2 linked regions of the Homo sapiens genome follow. The protein of the gene in region 1 purifies or fractionates together with the protein of each later gene. This does not show direct contact. Each region holds a gene or a part of one and is shown in the gene's direction. Other genes may lie near its edges.

Region 1 (3,825 bases):
TGATGACCTAACAGTTTGATTATAGTGAGTGGACTAACCACAACAATAAAAAAGATGTCAAAAAAACACCAATAGCCACTGGTTTTTCCAAATCAACTATGTTTCTAGCATCTGAGATAAAGGATGGCTGTATCATAAGATGCACCATGATAACCTCCAGGGTGGAATTCTTTTTTACAAAGATGTTACCTTTAGCAAGAGATGCCTTTGAAAAGGAGAAAACAGTAGCACTGAAACAGTATTACTGGTTCTGTTTTCTGATTTATGCTTTTTTGAAAGACCTGATGTTTCCCCTATTGATATAATTTTACTAATTAAAACATGTTTTATTTGATGTCTTGAGTTTTGAAGAAACGTCGAAAATGAATGACTGTTGGCTGGGCACAGTGGCTCAGGCCTGTAATCCCAGCATTTTGGGAGGCCGAGGTGTGCAGATCACTTGAGGTCAGGAGTTCAAGACCAGCCTGGTCAACGTGGTGAAAACCAGTCTCTACTAAAAAATAAAAAAATTAGCTGGGCGTGGTAGTGCACGCCTGTAATCCCAGCTATTTGGGAGGCTGAGGCACGAGAATTGCATGAACCCAGGAGGCAGAGGTTGCAGTGAGTCGAAATTGTGCCACTGCATTCCAGGCTTGGTGACAGAGTGGGACTCCATCTCAAAAAAAAAAAAAAAAAAGAATAAAGAATGATTGTTTATTAGCTTTGCACACATAGCAGTACATTTAAAAGGAAAAAATTAAACGTAGTCCCTAATATTTTTATTAGTACAGTCTCAAAGGAGTAATTTTCATTGTGAAAATGAAAATATTCTAATATAATTTATGAGATAATGTATGTGAAATCATGTATGTATGCGTCTGTATGTTCACTGCATTTTAAATATACATAGACTCAAAGGAAATAATGTTCGGTTACTGAGTAGAAGACTGGTACACGTTTGAACTTGATTCTTCTGAAAAAATAATGAATCTTCATTAGATTGTCTTTAGCCTCCACTCTTAGGGCAGCTTTAACTTAAAAGCAGAATCTTTTTCTTTTCTTTTCTTTTTTCCTTTTTTGAGACAGTCTTGCTTTATCACCCAGGCTAGAGTGCAATGGCGCGGTCTCGGCTCACTGCTACCTCCGCCTCCCAGGTTCAAGCCATTCTCCTGCCTCAGCCTCCCGAGTAGCTGGGATTACAGGCATGTGCCACCATGCCAGGCTAATTTTTGTATTTTTAGTAGAGATGAGGTTTTGCCATTTTGGCAGAGGCTGGTCTCGAACTCCTGACCTCAAGTGATCTGCCTGCCTCAGCCTCCCAAAGTGCTGGGATTACAGGCGTGAGCCACCATGCCTGGCCAAAAGCAGAATCTTAAAAAAAATAAAAATAAAAGGTGGCCTGTGGTGGCGTGGTAATGCCCTAAAGTCAGGTGAGGTGTTCAATTGGAGATGGAGGGATGGGTTCCTACATTCAGGCAAGTCTGTTATAAAGCTGTATAAAACTACTTGAAATAGATACTATCAGATAATTGAGGACAAAAGGTCTGCCTTATTTCAGCTGGCAAAAATGGCTTTTTAGCAATTTCACCTAGTGTTTATTAAGCTTGAGAAGAAAAGCTAAGGATCTTCTGGATAAATCCTGAGATCATGGGATCAGTTCAGAAAACAAGTTCTCTTAAAGGGAGAAAGGAATAAAAAATATGAATGTAATAATATTTAAACTAACATCATTTAGGGAATGATATGCTGCATATATGTGATTCCATGTAATTGAAAATACATAAATACTAAAACATTGTATTCATTTTCGACAGACCCTCTTTCTAAAGCGTTTGTTGTGTTGTATTACACGTTAACACTCATATTTGTATGTAGCAAATATTTATTTGATAACTGTTACTTGCTGGACACTGAGATTAAACATAATTTAACCTTCTCCACTGAGGTCATTTTACATTTCTGTTATGCATAGTACTACTTTTCAGTTTTGTTGATTTCACTGGCTTGTCACTTGTCATGGTGATCAGTATATACCTATTGTAATTTCATCCTTTCCCTCTTCTTCTTTTCAGTTTGCTGGTTATTCTATGACTTGAGGGAATAGATAACCTAGCTATTAATTACCTTTTAAATCAGTTCTGGCTGAAGGAGAGCTTAATGGCTTGGCTTTGTAACCATACTTTCAGATGTTTGAGAATCTCTTTCATTTCCTTCCAGATTTGGAGCTATATTTTAGAGAGTTAAGGCTGTAGAGAAACTAGCAGCTGGATTGTTTCAGCGACTAAAAAGCTGATATCCGAGGTTCATTTTTAGCAAATAAGGGACGTAATTCATTCTAAAGAAACAAAACATTTGTACAGCTGCTGAGGACAATGTGTAGTAGAGAGGGTGAGGAATTTGGAGTCCAGTTTTGGCCTGCCACTTAATAGCTCTGAGACTTTGGATTAGTTCTGTGAACTCTCTTGGCCTCAGGTTCCAAACCTGTTAAATGAAGTATTAATGTACCTTGGGGAGTTACAGTTGTCAACATTAAATGAGAAGGTGTGCTCTCAATCATAATGTAAGTGTTAATCAATGTCAGTGTTTTCATTCTAAAGATAGAGTCCTAAAAGTTCTGTTTCAAGTTAGATTATGGCCACAGTTTCAAAAATAAATGAATAAACCATTACTGTTTTTGTTTTGTTTCGTATTGAGACGGAGTCTCGCTCTGTTGCCCAGGCTGGAGTGCAGTGGCGTGATCTCGGCTCACTACAAACTCTGCCTCCCAGGTACATACCATTCTCCTGCCTCAGCCTCCCTAGTAGCTGGGACTACAGGCGCCCACCACCATGCCCAGCTCATTTTTTGTATTTTTAGTAGAGATGGGGTTTCACCGTGTTAGCCAGTGATCTCCTAACCTCGTGATCCGCCTGCCACGGCCTCCCAAAGTGCTAGGATTACAGGCGTGAGCCAAGGTGCCCAGCCTGAATAAACCATTACTGTTTCTAAAAGAAGAAAGTGAGGTTTCCATTTCTAGGACCATTGGAGTGGGTAGTAGACCAGGAGTGAGGAGACTTGTGTTTTAATGCTGGTTTTGTTCTTTTCTGGCCTTGTGATTTTTGAGCAAACGACTTAATTGCTGTCACACTCTTCATCTGTAAAATGAGACTAATCCTTGTTTCACACACCTTTTTAAGATTGTTGCAAGGGTTAAATGCAATAATGAATGTGGTAGTGTTTTGAGAAGCTTCTATTAGTGCTAACCTAGCACAGAGCTTGCCTTAATATACAGAGGCACTGAGTGATTATTGAAAGAATGGCCTTAAAGATTAAATAGAAGGTCCTTCATGGTGGCTTCTCCTGTCTCTAGTTGGTTTTTGAGTTCTTGATTTACTTTTTATTGTATTTATCTACGGTTTTACTTATGTAAAATTCTCACAGGCCTGAATATAAGATTATGAAATTTTCTGGGTCAAGAGAGGGGGCTAAATGATTGAGTATATATTATAGTAAGTGTATTTCAACAATTTTATTTTTATTTCTTATCAAGAAGTATAGTAATGTATTTGTTCTTCTTTTCTTTTTTCTAACATGGTATCGTTATAACATTATAATATTTCTTAGTATCTCCCAAATTGTCCTTAAGGTAAAACTATTTTAAGTTTGGCAGCTTTGAACAGGACATGTCTATTTAAATATTCTTTTCTATCTAAATATAGGTTGACAAGCATGGGTCACCCACTAGTTACAAGGAAGGATACCATAATATATAGCTATATTAAGAGATAGAGTACAAAGTGTATATTCACATATAGGTATATGCAAATTACAAGAAGTTACTCCTAATGAGTCTTTAGTACTCTTGTT
Region 2 (3,825 bases), on another chromosome or scaffold:
TTTTTTTGCAGAACTGAAACTTGTATGTTATTAGTTTATTTTCTTAGACCAGTGTAATAATTGACTGTAAATAGAAATATAAATGTCACTTTACAGTTAGATGTATCACAGTCGTTTCAGGAGAATTTTTCCTATATTGTTACCTTGATTCATTGTTTAAAATTGGTAGGATTTGTATAGATATAGGATAGTGTTTTATTTATACTTTATCATAAGCCATAATCATTTTAAGAATACTTTATTGGATAGATTTTAGTACTTTTTAAATTCTAAAGTTCTATTTTTCTTTTCACTTCCCCTTCCTTCCCCTTATAAGATCATTTCCATGTCTTTGTTGGTGATCTCAGCCCAGAAATTACAACTGAAGATATAAAAGCTGCTTTTGCACCATTTGGAAGAATATCGTAAGTAACAGAAGATAAATAAAATCCTTTTAATTAGAAACAATTATATGTAGACATAACTTGAAAATAATTCTGTTGTGAATTTTGTACATTAATTTTATAACTTGAATATAATGTATTACATTGTTTAGAGATCATTCAAGAAGTTAACAGCAAAAGATTGTTTTCCCATTGATGAATAAACCTTTGGTTTTCAATTATCTTAAAATCCTTTTTCAATTAGCATAGCTCTTAAGAGACAAATTTGCCATTGTACATGTTTTACTTTCTTATATAGGTATCAAGCTAGCTTGGTGACAATCTTTAGTAAAATTGTGCTGTAACTAAGGAATTTAGATCTGTTGGGTACTTCTATGATACCATGCATTTTGTGTTAATATATTTTAACAAAAAGAAACCTTAACAATTCAACTTAAAAAGCAGTTATTGAATATTATTTTCTAGATATTTACACCCTTTTAAAAAAACTGCTAACAATAATAGTGCCTTAATAATATTTTATGAAGCACTGCCTTGCTTGCACTTGTTATTAGTCATACATTTTAGGCCCTTATGAATAAATACCTTACTTGAGATAGCATTCATCATAGAAGAACTTTAAAATTTTGAAAAGCATGCCATATTAGAGTAAGAATAACAAGTTGTTTACAGTACTTTCTGTAGAGTAATTAGCTTAGAAAACTTCTTCAGGGTTTCTGCTTGCTCTGTTATTTTTCCACCTAGAAGAATAGTAAAAAGGAAGTGCTAGCTGTGGTTTGGTTTGAACAGACCAACAGCAGAGATGAGATGAGGAGACTGGAAAGTAAATGCCAGTAGTATTGGTGAATTTTAGGAGCTTTCGTTTGAAGAGTTATCGTTCCTTGATTAGGGGATGTGACCAAGGAATTACCAACTTTAAAGGTGGTCACAGAATTAGGGCTTATAAATGGACTTCTTTCAGATGACATTTTTCTTTGTGAGACCTGATCAGGAAAATAAGTACAGCTTTCATTTCTTGATTGTCCTTCTTAATAATATCTTAGAGTTTCAATAATAATTAGCTTGCTTTCGAATATCTGGACTTAGACAGTCTTAGCCTTTGGCCTCTCAAGGGCTCTAAATCTCTATGCACAATTTTGTGTTTTCATTTTGGTGTGGAAAATCTTTGTAAATTTTATCCTATTGTCAGAGTAGTCATAGAACCATAAAAGGATAAAGAAGCCTGATCTAGATCTTTGCTGCTGCTTCAGAGAATCTTTTCAGAGAGAAATAAATGAGTTGAATATTTTTCAAGACTAACATTTTCTGAAACTTTAAGAAGAAAAAATTTTCTAACATTGTGAACAGATTAAGTAGCTATTTTATTAAATGCTTTGATTTTAATTGAGGTAGTTTTTTTGAAAACACGGGAATTTTAGTTTGGAATTAGGCAAAGATTGTTTAACAGTTGGTGAGTTTAAGTTAAGTGACCTTCAGATTTTAGCAATTTCATGATTTACAAATCGTGGGTTATATTTTTTTCTCTTAAATATATTTCTGTGTCATATTTTTAGTCTGTAGATTTTCTTATGGTCCCATGATTATTGGTGTATACTTTTTTTTTCTTGGTAAGACCTTTAAGTTTTATGATTTTCAATTGAGATAATGTATAATGTTTGAGTTTTAGGCTATATAAGGAATTAGCTTTCCTGCATTTAAAGGAATCATTTGGCAGTCAGTAGCATATTTTCCTGATTTTTTGTTGTTGTTAAAGGAGATAAGTTGATAACTGTATGTTGAAGGGTTCTCATGATATTCTCTAAAAAGTGCAAATATCAGTGCTTGATTTATAGATGTGTAATAAACAGTGGTCTGTAAAAGCATGTAGTATAAAAAATATGGTATTTTCCCTTATATACAGCCTATAAACTCTTCCTATTCCTTGAGTTTAGGGTAGACTAACAAATTACAGCGTAGAAGAGAGTCAGCTACCAGATTAAATGCATGCGTACCATACAGATAATTTATTAAGTATTTTTGCATATTGAACATTGACTTACATTAATTTTCCCTTTTCACCACCACGTCTTTGTCATTTTGACCCTGAACACTTAATAAATCACTCAGATTGATCTAAAATATGCTTATGTATACTTTAATAGAAAATTACATTGCATGGCTTTCTGACTTGGGTTTTTGTTATAAAAGTGCCTGTTTTGTTCATGTGTCCTGAGAGAGCAAGCATTGTGACATACCTGACTAACTTAAAAGCAGATTGCCTGTGAAGCACAATTTGAGTCCAATTTTTTGAGGTATGGAGTTTTAGCTATCATGGCTGGGTTTTTACTCAATCTCAAATAATAGGGCTCTGGTTATTTTGCAGAGTGTCTCTGAAGAATGGACAGAATTGCCCTGGCTAACTACAAGCTACGGTTCACAGTGGATAAATGTTGGCGTGCTTTTTTACTTTCTGACTTTTTAAAATTTTGCTTTTATATCTTGTAGTTCCAATCAATTTTATATGAATGCTATTATAAAATTCAGTGTAAAATCTTTTCTTGTCTAGCTTAAAACTTGTGTGTGTCTAGTATTTTTCTTCAATGATTTAACATTTCTGAAAATGTCAAGTTCTCAAAATTTAGACAAAAAGGGGGGTATAAATTGATCTGAAAAAATTAAATAGTTTAATTAGTTTAGGGAATATACAACTTTTTCATTCTTTTGGTTTCCAGTTTTCTATTTTTTTTTAATGATTAGGTAGAATATAGTGTCAAATAAGTTATAAATTGCATGGTTAAAGAAAGCCATTCATCTAATGTCCTGTGAACTTTATAAGTGGTTAAGTAGTTCATGTGAGTAGCTGCTTTCACCATGCTTAATATTTAAAAGTTTAAAAAGTTTTTTGAAGAGAGAGGCAATTTCTGTACAATATAAATATACATATATACTTAAGTTATTGATTTGCATGTCTATAAAATTAAGCCTCATTTCCTAATACATGATAAATTTTGTAGAATAAAAGGTGAATTTGCATTAAAGGTTCACTTTAATGAAGGTGAAACATGAGAATGAGTTGTGTGTGAAATTCTTATTTGATATCCAGAGGATAGTTTGCAAACCTAAACTTCTGATTGTTTCTGATTTCAGAGATGCCCGAGTGGTAAAAGACATGGCAACAGGAAAGTCTAAGGGATATGGCTTTGTCTCCTTTTTCAACAAATGGGTGAGCTCAGTGAGAAGTGCATGGATAATGCTTAAAGAGTAAAGAATGGAAACACTCCGTTTTAATTACTAATCTTTTTTTCGTCTGCTGTTTATTTTACTGATGATTAAAATAAACCCTCACTAGAAGATTTCTTCTGTTTTGTCTGTTTAACATTTATTGGCACCTGAGGCATGCAGAGTACTGATAAGATGTTTTCAGAATGTAGAAAGTAAAGTTGTTTAAATTATCAGCCAAAGG

What was found.
Region 2: the proteins of OSTC (region 1) and TIA1 purify together in Homo sapiens (affinity purification with mass spectrometry; one large-scale study listed by BioGRID and IntAct). This does not show direct contact.

Annotation. Positions count from the first base shown.
Region 1 is NC_000004.12:108,660,560-108,664,384, forward strand, and holds part of OSTC (oligosaccharyltransferase complex subunit OSTC), read left to right. Parts: intron 1-2,673; coding exon of another isoform or gene 2,674-2,747; intron 2,748-3,825. UniProt on the Homo sapiens protein: Subunit of STT3A-containing oligosaccharyl transferase (OST-A) complex that catalyzes the initial transfer of a defined glycan (Glc(3)Man(9)GlcNAc(2) in eukaryotes) from the lipid carrier dolichol-pyrophosphate to an asparagine residue within an Asn-X-Ser/Thr consensus motif in nascent polypeptide chains, the first step in protein N-glycosylation.
Region 2 is NC_000002.12:70,224,314-70,228,138, reverse strand, and holds part of TIA1 (cytotoxic granule associated RNA binding protein TIA1), read left to right. Parts: exon of another isoform or gene 1-316; coding exon 317-404; exon of another isoform or gene 405-2,745; coding exon of another isoform or gene 2,746-2,782; exon of another isoform or gene 2,783-3,411; coding exon of another isoform or gene 3,412-3,509; coding exon 3,510-3,585; coding exon of another isoform or gene 3,586-3,627; exon of another isoform or gene 3,628-3,715; intron 3,716-3,825. UniProt on the Homo sapiens protein: RNA-binding protein involved in the regulation of alternative pre-RNA splicing and mRNA translation by binding to uridine-rich (U-rich) RNA sequences.